3 linked regions of the Homo sapiens genome follow. The protein of the gene in region 2 interacts with the protein of the main gene of each other region in a biochemical or structural test. Each region holds a gene or a part of one and is shown on either strand. Other genes may lie near its edges. The genes, in order: VANGL2, MARCHF8 and SREBF1.

Region 1 (3,746 bases), on a different chromosome or scaffold from region 2:
CCACACCAAAATCTCAAGACTCCTCAGGAACTTTAGGATCTTAGAGTCAGGGCAGAGTTAGAAGGCTATGAAGCAGCAAACTCTGAGACGGCTTTCCAAGAGAACTGTGGCCTGAAGCTTTTACCTAAGGCTGGGAATCCAAGAGTGTAGCTTCTCCAAGCGCTGGAACCCAGCCTATGACGATGGGGGAGGAAGTTCCTCTTATTCTTCTCCCTGACCCCGCCAATCTTCCAAATTCCTCTAGGACTACAACCAGACCCCTTGTTCCCTATTCCCCACAACACACGCCCTCTTCCAGAAAAACCCATCCCCCAAAAACAGGCACTTCATAAGACAACTCATTCCCTCCCACCCATAGGTCTCAGATACTTAAGGTACTACCCCTAAACCCAGGCGAGGCCATCCACGAAGTCTCAAAATCCTGCAGACAGCCTTCTTTTCGGGATTTTTGCCAGGAAAATCTGCCTGCAGAGTCTAGAGGTACCCCCGACACACACTCAGAAACATACATACCAGCTAAGGCAGGCACACACATTGATACCCATCAACACAGGTTACACACAAGAGAACACAGATTCACACCCCTTCCCAGTACACAGGTGCACACACACCTATCCACATACACTCCATTCTGCTCTTACACACCCACCTTCCTCAGTACCTACACACCTCTTTCCCGTGAACCCCTCTCCCAGTACACACACATAGACATACACGCCCTCCCCTAAGTATACATATAAACACATATCCAAACACACAGCAGATGCATGGTCAGCCGCTCCCTGGGTGCACACACACTCAAGCACAGAAAAACACCTACACATCCAAACCAGGGGCCCACCTGCAGGAACATGCAGCACGTCAAGGCGTGCACACACACCAAAACAAAGAATCATGCACACGGATCCTCCACCAACCCTTCAAAACTCACTAACGCAGAGCCCACAGTCCCCCAGATGGGTAAATATGAGTGGGGAGAGGGATGCCAGCGCCTGTCCCCTCGGCCCCTATACACAGTCTACCGCCTCCAGCCCCATCCTCGGTCTGTACATACACCCTATCTACTCTGCCCAACCCGCCCCCCTGACTCCACTCTACACCCTTAACGCATACCTGCCTCCGTCCCTCCCCACGCTCCTGAGGGGTGTATGCACCCCAAAACACCCTTGGCTTCCAATACCTCCAGACTCCGATCCTTCCACGCCTCTCCCCCCACCTCCAACACAAGCTCCCCGTCTCCGGCTTCAACCGGCTCCCCTGGGATCATTAAGGCCCCCGCCCGGGCCCAGGAAAGTCCCCGGCTCTCCAGGCCTGGGCTCCGCCCCCTCCCCACGAGCCCCTTCCCCTCCCCAAAGTTGGGGGGGGTACTCCGCTGTGCAGTGGGGAAGCGGACCGGAAGGGGGTTGCCCGGAGTCCAGCCCCCCTTCCCCCATAAGCCACCCCGCTCGCTCTGGGGTCGGGCACCCCCTGGCCCCTTGCATGATTTTCCTCCTTTTCCATTTCTTTTTTTCTCTCTCTTTCTTTCTTCTTTTTTTTTCAAACTTTGCCCGCGCCCCCGCGGCCCGGCACTCACCCGCCGCTGCGAACTGCCGGGTGGGCTCCGCGGGCGCCCCGCTCGGCCCGTCGCCTTTGTATCCGCAGCGCTCCGGGTCGCTCCGAACTCGGCGCTCCTGGACAGGCAGCGCGCGCGATGGGGGATGTTGAGGGGGGGGTTCTTGAGTCTGGTCACCCCCTGCTCCGTCCCAGACCGCTGCCTCTTCCCCCTCAAGGCCCCGGGGGCTGGGGGCCAGGGGGGAATAGGGGGCGCTCAGGCTCCCATGGCGGGACCAAGGATCAAGGAATCAAGGATCAGGAATCAGATCGGGAGCCGGCGGCGCAGGGGGGAGGGGGCGGAGGGGGAGGGGATGAGGGTGGGGGGTGCAGGGGGCGGGGGAGCGCGAGCTCCCGGGTGCCGCCTCCCGGCTGTTCCCACAGCCGCCGCCCCTCCTACCGCCGCGTCCATTGTCTGCGGCCCCGCTCTTCCCGGAGTCGCCGCTCCCCCAGCCCTGCGCCTTCAGATGCCCAGCGGCCCTCCCCGATCCTGGGAATCCGCGGTGGGGCTGACACTCGGGTCCCGAACGGTGGGCAGGGGAATGCCTCGATTCTTGGACTTGGCCCAGCCCGCAGTCCCTCCTGGGGCTGTCTTCCTGGACCCCTCCTGTCGGAGAAGGAGCCCCCAGATCCCTGGGGCTGGCCATATTCTCTTTAGGGCCACGGACCCGACTACACAAAATCCAATGGAATCTGGGACGTGGGAAGATTGATTTTTTTTTTCCCCCTAGGGGTCCGAGAAGGGAGGGTCATCCCTGATTTTAATTAGTGGCGAGAGGCGCACGCCTCTTCCCATGCATACGGGGATTTCCCTGACACCATCACCACCATATCCCCTCCTTCCAAAAATAATTTAATTACTTGGAGTTCTAGCTGCGAGCAGCGACCGCCCCAGTCAGTCTGGGACGCTCCCTCATTAACACATTTTTCCTCCCCTCTGGTTTGAGTGTTGGGATTAATTACAAAGGGAACCCTGCCTTAGGGAAGAAGGGGAGGAGGAAAAGACGCGGGCGCCTGGGAGTTTGAATGGCAGAGGAGAGGGGGCCTTCTCCCAGGAAACCTCCAAGAGGAAAAATGCCTTGGCCAGTTGGGTCCCCAACCCCAAGCAGGCAGATTGTCCATCCCAGGAGTTTCAGATACTTTAGAGTTGAAGGTGCCACACAGGGATTGTAGGATCTCACAAAATATCCTACACGTTTGGGGCATTTGTGCCTCCCAGTATGCCAAGAAACCAGTTAGGGTTCTTTTACATGTGACCCTACAAGAGTGAACCCACACCGTAAAAGCCTGGGCTGTGGGAAGTCCATGTTCCCCTTGGAGTAAGTGAAAGCAGTATTCAATTATCATTAATGTTATTGCCGTGCAACCCGCCACTTAGAGTAGTATCATTTCAAAAGCATCTTCACATACTTCTCCCTAAGCAGGCCAAGGCCTTTTCAATATCTCAGCCTCCTTCAGTTTCCAATCCTGGCACCTGCTTGAACAACCCTGTGATTAAGGAATCCCAGAGAAAGAGACTCCCAGCCTCTGTTCCTCACTTGTTTGGGAATTTTTGCTCCTCCCTGATGAAAACTATTTCCTGAGACCTAATCTCACCCCTTTTGATGGTTCATTCTAACCTGTCCAAAGATGAGGACAGAACCAACTATGCTGCATTGTTCAAAGATGCAGAACAGTAAAACACACTTCCTTTCTCCTTTGCCCAAACTCTGTCTTTCCTCATCCCCTCCTCCAGTAGTATGGGTAAGCAGGTGACTCAGCATCAAGACTACATGAAATATGCAGAATCATCATTTCAGGTACCCAAGTCCCTGCATGCGTCCAGGCACTCATTCACCTTGTGCCTATCATGTGCAGGCACTGGGCCGCACTGGGGCTCCTGGCAGTGACCACGACCAGGTGTATGAGGGAGTGGCAGGAGAGCTGGGGAAGGGTTAAGGGAAGTAGGGAGGACATGGGTGTCCCCAGCCCTGCCCCAAAGCACACCCCAGTGCTAGGCAGCTAGTGTGTAATTTGACACAGAGTCGGGGCTGCCGTGGCACTGTCTTGACTCTCAGGCAGATTTAGTGTGAATTATCTTCACATGCTGCTAGCCTGTTTCACAGACCCCAAAATGGCCCAAAGAACTGGAAAAAGGGCTTCTGATGCCAGAATTA
Region 2 (3,746 bases):
TGCCCAGGCTGGAGTGCAGTGGCTATTCACAGGTGTGATCATGGCACACTACAGCCTTGAACTCCTGAGCCTCAGCAATCCTCCATCCCTCAGCCTCAAGTATCTGGGGACCACAAGCCTGCACCACTGACCAATGGATTCACAACTCATCCAATGTTGCTCAGTCAAAGAAGAGTGGAAGACAGTGTCCAGCTACTTCCTGCTTTTATAGGATGTAGTTTGCGGAGATTCTCATGCTCCAGAATATGAACTCTCCTGACTGGGTTTCAAAAACTACCACCACAGCAAAAGAAATGCCAAAAAGGAGGCTAGTGCCTCCTAACTGATGTCCCTCCTCCGGAAACCCAGACGTTTTTGGCTAACTGGAAAATCCTCTGACCCCAGGACTCCTGTGAGCTATCCCGGCCCCCATGCTGAGCTTGCTCCAGCCTGAGAACTCACCTGTTGCCTGCCCCTGCTTGATCTCCTCAGCAGTACGGTCAATGAGCACATACAAGGACCAGACCACACATGTGATGGCAATGACGTGGAATGTCACTGAGCACATGATCTTCCTGCGCTCGCTGGACGTCATCTGCAACTTCTCCCACTAGAAAGACAACACAGAGTGTGAGGCTCAGGCTTCTGGGGAAGGGCTCCGGTGGGGTGAGAGCATTGTAGGTAGGTAAGATTGGCTTTCCACCCCACTTCTCCCTTCCCAAACTAGATGCATTCCCCCAAGTATTGTTCTCCTAAAACCACTTGGCTTCAACCAGGTACCAGGTGCAGCCAACTTTCTATGCAATGAAAAGAAGCCAGGATCAAGATGAATGCAGAACTACCATCAAAAATCCCCTTGTCTGCTTATTCTTGCAAGCAGACATAAGATGGCCTGATAAAGAATTCTATGATTTCAGTCCTAATGAAAACAGTATGTTGGCCCAGGACCCAGGTACTACGTTTTAAGTCTCCCTGATGTGCTGACTGGCATGGACGAGCGGAAGAAGAGGGTTGATGATGCCACAACACACTAGCAGATGGGTCACACTACATTGTGAAGGTGAATGGCAGAAGACGCTCACTCTTTGGTCCTTGCTACTTTGGCAGCAACAGCTCGAAATCGACGCTAAGAGTTCCTGGTACAAGCAGACTCTGCTAGTCCCATCTCCTCTAGGAGCTCATTAATTTACTCCAAATAGCCAGACTTTCTTTTTCATTTACTGGTTTCCGAATCAGGAGAAAACACATAAAGGTAGAGAGAAAGAACAATGTGTAAACACTCTGCACATATCCTTTGCCAACCCTAGTCACAGCCTCTTTCCAGATGAGTCTATGCAGGGTAGTTGAAAATAGAGCCTCAAGGACTTCCCATGTTGAGAGATTAGCATAGAGTAGGCACCCAATAAATTACAAGGTTTCTACTGGGCAAAACATTTTTTTAAGCAGTTTGCACAAGCCTTCTCTAAATCTGGTTGTTTTCTGCTGGGATTTTATACACTAGCAAGTTCCCTGGTCTTCCTACCTATAATACAGAGTCAGTGCCTCAGTGCCCCATGCTCCCTGCTACTTCCTACAACGCACGTAGCTTGACACCCTGTCAATGTTCACCTTCACCTTTCTAGGGTATGCTTTACTCCACAGACAGCCTGACCTCTCTAAACTCCTTGCACTCTGCCTCCAAATCCTAGTGATCCTTCAAGAACTGCTCTAAAACCCAAACACCCTATGAGGCTACCATCGCTCCACTTCCCCAGCACTCTAGCTCATAATGAGCATTTCCTTTTCTGAATGACTGTTATGCTCTACCAGCACACCATTTAGCATTTAATTGGCTAGTATTTGATTATGTGACTTATCTTGCAATTTATATATTAATGTTCTGAGATAGGAACAGTTTTTTATTCTTCCAGACAAAACCTTTTGTGCTGGGCATCTAGAGAGATATATGAAACAGTCAAAATTTAAACAGGAAGCCAGTGTGGCGGACAAAGCTCCTCTCAGAGGGAGCAGTGACATGGGCCTCCAGACAGCTGCGTGTCATGCAATGCCTGTGGGTCCTTTCTGAAGACAGTTGCACATCACGCAACGTTTGTGCTTCCTTTCTTTTCCCTATCCACCTACTCACACTCCCATCCAGCAAATAGTTATCATGGGTGTATACAAATAAATTTACTGTATGCTACACTGTGCTGGGTGCTGGGGAGATACTAATCTCCAACAGACAGTCCTAATCAGAGAAGCAGGACGTCAACAGTTAATATGTATAAAATTAGGTGCTAAGATATGTCACAAACAGTCTGTAGTCAAAGGCCAGAGGACTGACACCGACAAGCAAGCAGTCTTACTTTGAAGGGAAAAGAAGGATTATGAATGGTCAGAAAGAGCTTCTTCCTGAGAAGAGGGACTTGAAAATCAGCACCAGAAACAACAATCTCTACAATGCAAATGTAAGCACCAGCCCCAGCTTTTTAAGGAAATGAACGCAGGCAAGCCATGACCTCATGATCTGAGACACCAGCTTTCTGGGGGTCACTGGTTTCAGGAAGGGTGAAGCATCCCTTCCTCCCACGTACTTTTCTCAGTGGCTTCAGCTTGGTCTCCATGATGAACTCATACTTGCAGAGCTCGCAGCAGCGCGTGTCGGAGCTCTTGATCCACTGCTGCAGGCAGGCCTGGTGCACGAAGTGGAGGCTTCCTGTGCAGTGGCAGGGGGTGATCAGGGGGCTCTCATCATCTCCTTCACAGTGGCAGATCCTATGGTGGAAGGAAAACCTGTCATTCCAAGGACAGTCCCATGACAGGGAAGCTGACACTTCAGTGGCAGGTTAATCCCCCCAAAGGAAACTCAGAAACGAACATTACAGAAGTGACTATGGGCACAAAAACATACAAACACAAACGAAAACAATCACTACAAACTAAAAATGTCTAGCTTACCGCACCAACATGGAAAGTCTGGAGGGCATTTGGCAACAGAAAGGAAAAAACGATGTAAGAAATGACAAAGCTGTCATTTTTTGGTAAGAAATAAGAACTTCACTGAAAGATGAATTTAAAGCAACATGGAATCATTTTCCAGAACATAAGATGGTAAAATAATTAGAGGGAAAATTTCTATGTAAAACAAAACCTGCATTCCAACATCCAAAAATACCAGTGACCTTAAATGACGTTTGCTTTTTAGCTATAATCACTGACTTTACCTTCATACCCCACAACTACACATTTCTGTCGTCTCTCAGCAAGTAAACAAAGATGACAGTACCTCTCTCCTAGACCTAAAAAACTCACCATTACAAGATGCTGCAATTTCATCTCTTTTTCTTGGGACCACTAATAGCAATAAGTGAGAAATTAATTTGAAAGCACTCTCTATTTCCAAGGAAGTATGCAACAAGGTGTAGCTACTAGCCTGAAGGAACTTAACAGGCTTTTAAGAAACAGAGGGGTCTTTTCCAGCAGCTAGAGAACAGGTTGGGGCACTCGTCCTGGAAGGAGCCAGGCTCTCAGGCTGTTTTAGTGAGGGGATCTCTGATCCAAATGTTAGAAATGATGACAGCTGGCACTAAGGAGCGGAGACTGGAGAAAGGTCAGAATGAGGAGGGCACAAGAGTCATGACAAAAAGTGAATTATGGAGGCCAGACAAGGATGCTGCACAAGGGAAGATAAAGGGGGGAAACAGAGTTAGGATGGGACATAGGTGGCTACACCTCAGTTAAAAAGAAGGAAGGAAGGAGCTACTGGAGAACAGCCAGTCCCCACACAC
Region 3 (3,746 bases), on a different chromosome or scaffold from region 2:
TCAAGCAATCCTCCAACCTCAGCCTCTAAAGTCAATAAGATTATAGGCGTGAGCCACTGCATCTGGCTAAATGGTGATAATAATAACACTAACTGGCATTGGTTCAGGGCCTACTATGTGCCATGCACTGCTTAAGCCTTCACTCATCGGATCCCCACAATTCCAAGAAGCTGCTTTTAGTACTGCTCCCTTTACATTGTTAAGAACCTGAAGGTTCTTGGACTTGTCCAAGGTCATACAGTAGGGCTGCTTGTTAAGACCCCTGATCCCAGCCTTCTAGCTGCAGGGAGCACAGGGACCCCAGAGCCTGGCAGGGGCAGCATGCAGAGGCAAGGCCTGCTGGGAGACAGGTGCAGGGACGGGGAGTCAGTTAGGAAAGGAGCTCAAACAGGGTTCGGGGTAGGCCACAAATTCCCCCTAGGGGGATGGACCCCCAGCCCCGTCCCACCTCCCACAAGCCCCAACCCAGCAGGGGACCCACACCTGGAGCCAGTCTCAATGGCTCCCTGACCTCTCACCCCTGAGCCAGTTAAGGCTTTCCCCACCTCACCCCCGACACACACAGCCGCCCCTGTGGAGCACATGGTGCAGGCTGTCACACACTGTCAGTGCCCAGGGTCAAAAGGCATGTCCACATGGCCCGTGGCTGCTAGGAGACAAGGTCAGAGGCACTTCCTCTGGCCGGCCTGGGCTCCACCTGTCAGCAGGCAAAGTCCAGATCCCAGGCCTCTGCTGGCAGTGACTCCTGCCTGGAGCTGACCGGGTCACTCAGGATGTTTGTGTCCAGCTAGGTGAATGTTGGGCAGAAGGTAACTCCCAACCCGGCTGAGACAAGGGAACTTTATCTTGGAGCACTAGGGAGCCATGAATGGTTGGAGACCAGGGGAGTTCTGTGCTGTAAGCTAGGGCAGTAACTAGTCTAGAGCTGTGTTTTCTAAGGAGTGCCAGTGCTTGGTGGAACTAGGGAGAGAACTGGGGCATGAGATATCCTGGGGAGAGGTATGGGGTGGCAGAGCGGGCCCCCATTGTGCCCTACCAGGGCTGGCCTGGACCCAGCAAACAGCCAGACACATGACTAGAAGCAAGGCCCTGTTGTGGCTGGGCTGGGCATGCTGGGAGGGACATCAGGGCGGGAGAACTCTGAGAACGCACTGCTCGGGGCAAGGTGACACCCAGAAGGGCTTTCTGGGAAGCAGCCTCTGACGGGGCTTGGCAGACATCTGGGGTCCGACAGACAAAGAGCAGACATGACGGGGTCCAGGCATAGGAAAGAGACCCCGAGGCCCTGTTCCAGGCTCTTGGCCAGAACTCTGTTTCCGTCTGCCTCTTCTGCACTCATAAGCTTGTGCAAAATTGGATAAATTAATCCTCAGCAGGGAGGTGAAGACTGCCACGGGCTTAACAATAATCCCCAACACAGGTACAGGGCCATCTCCTGATCCATCCTCCCCCGACAGCTGCAAGGTACTCTGAGGCCCAGAAGGAGACAGGCTCACCTGAGGTCTTGGTGCAGATGCAGGACTCAAACCCAGGGACACTATAGCCAGGGCAGTGCCTTCACCCACAGATGCAAGGACTCATGGAGGCAGCTCCATCCCCAAATCCATTCACATGACAAGAGTTTGGCTGTGGCAGGCAGCAGGACCGGATGGGGCCCAAGGCCCTTGGCTGGCTCACCAGGGCTGGTTCCCAGTCTAATGACTCAAACACTGCTCTGGACTGGGATGGGGAGGTAGCCACATAGCCTCTGACCCCTCTGTGACCCACTTCCAGGCCCCCAGAGTAGCCCCTGTGGAGGAGCCTCCCTCAACCCCTCATCCCCATTCTTAGGAGCCCAGTGCTTAAGAGCTTAAGAGCTAGGCTCTGGAGCCCACAGCCTGGGTTTGAATTCTGGCTTTGCCATCATCTGGCTGTGTGATCTCAGGCAAATCACTTAACCTCTCTGGTCCTCAAGGCCGTCATCTTCATCATATGTCTACCTACTTGGGGTTGTCAGGGGATTAAGTGGGATTATCAACACACTGTCTGAAACACAGTAAGTACTCAATTAGTGTTTTCTGTTCACATTACGATCCTCCATCCAAGCAGCCAGAGGGAACTGAAGCTCGGTGTGCCCCTGCTCTGACCCCCGACTGTCCTCACATCTAGCCCAGCTCTGCACTCTGGCACTCAAGGCCAGCCTGGCCCCCTCTTATCCCTCATGTCTCTCAAGGGACCTGGCATTTCCACCCCCAAATCTTCAGACCTTATCAAACCTGCTCAGCTCCACTCCTGGTAGAAGAAGCTTCAAAAGCAGGCTCGACCTCTGACCAGCAATTCCCCTCCCAGAACCTCATCCTAGGAACACAGTGAGGATCCGGGCAAAGACTGGCCTCAGTGGCCAGGCACAGTGGCTCACGCCTGTAATCCCAGCACTTTGGGAGGCCGAGGCGGGCAGATCATGAGGTCAGGAGATCGAGACCATCCTGGCTAACACGGTGAAACCCCGTCTCTACTAAAAATACAAAAAATTAGCCAGGCATGGTGGCACGCACCTATAGTCCCAAGCTACTCGGGAGGCTGAGGCAGGAGAATGGTGTGAACCCGGGAGGCGGAGTTTGCAGTGAGCCGAGATCGCGCCACTGCACTCCAGCCTGGGTGACAGAGCAAGACTCTGTCTCAAAAACAAACAAACAAAAAAAAAAAAACAAAGAAAAAAACCGGCCTCAGTGTCCACTGCAGCAGTTTATAAAGATAAAACAACCTAGGTGTCCATCGACAGGGAATCAGGTGGGTAATAAGAGGAAACCTTACTGTCGTCTGGCTGTTGACATGGAACCAAGCAGATTCCAATCAGCTGTGAACCAATGGACCCTATTTTAATTTATAAAAATACAGATCCAGCCGGGCGCGGTGGCTCACGCCTGTAATTCCAGAACGTTGGGAGGCCGAGGTGGGCAGATCACAAGGTCAGGAGATCGAGACCATCCTGGCTAACATGGTGAAACCCCATCTCTACTAAAAATACAAAAAAATTAGCCGGGCGTGGTGGCAGGTGCCTGTAATCCCAGCTACTCGGGAGGCTGAGGCAGAACTGTTTGAACCTGGGAGGCGGAGCTTGCAGTGAGCCAAGATCGCACCACTGCACTCCAGCCTGGGCGACAGAGCAAGACTCCGTCTCAAAAAAAAAAAAAAAAAAAAAAAAAAAAAAATATATATATATATATATATATATACACACACACATACAGATCCACAGCTGCCCGGGGCTGGGAGCAGGAACAGGAACTGACTAAAGAAGTATAAGGGATCTCACTGTGTGATAAAAATGTTCGACAGCTAGTAATTGTCACACAACTCAAAAAGTTAACTAAAAATCATTGAATGATATACTAAAAATGGGTAAATTTTGTGATACATAAAGTATACCTCAATAAAGTCGTTTTTAAAAAATTGATGAAGGCCGGGCATGGTGGTTCATGCCCTGTAATCCCAGCACTTTTGAGAGGCTGAGGTGGGCAGATCACCTGAGCTCAGGAGTTCGAGACCAGCCTGGCCAACATGGCCATCTCTACTAAAAATACAAAATTTAACCAGGCGTGGCGGTGCATGACTGTAATCCCAGCTACTTGGGAGCTGGAGAATCTCTTGAACCTGAGAGGCAGAGTTTGCAGTGAGCTGAGATCATGCCACTGGACTACAGCATGGGCAAAAGAGCGAGACCCTGTCTCAAAAAAAAAAAAGTTTATGAAGAGTGTGCACCCATC

The links.
Region 1: the proteins of MARCHF8 (region 2) and VANGL2 form a complex in vitro, tested with the Homo sapiens proteins (one study listed by BioGRID).
Region 3: the proteins of MARCHF8 (region 2) and SREBF1 form a complex in vitro, tested with the Homo sapiens proteins (one study listed by BioGRID).

The regions. Positions count from the first base shown.
Region 1 is NC_000001.11:160,398,697-160,402,442, reverse strand, and holds the start of VANGL2 (vang-like protein 2), read right to left. Parts: upstream 1,880-3,746; 5' UTR 1,574-1,879; intron 1,269-1,573; exon of another isoform or gene 1,114-1,268; intron 1-1,113. UniProt on the Homo sapiens protein: Involved in the control of early morphogenesis and patterning of both axial midline structures and the development of neural plate. Plays a role in the regulation of planar cell polarity, particularly in the orientation of stereociliary bundles in the cochlea.
Region 2 is NC_000010.11:45,458,679-45,462,424, forward strand, and holds part of MARCHF8 (E3 ubiquitin-protein ligase MARCHF8), read right to left. Parts: intron 2,734-3,746; coding exon 2,553-2,733; intron 1,200-2,552; exon of another isoform or gene 1,062-1,199; intron 590-1,061; coding exon 442-589; intron 1-441. UniProt on the Homo sapiens protein: E3 ubiquitin-protein ligase that plays several important roles in innate immunity and adaptive immunity.
Region 3 is NC_000017.11:17,830,261-17,834,006, forward strand, and holds part of SREBF1 (sterol regulatory element-binding protein 1), read right to left. Parts: intron 1-3,746.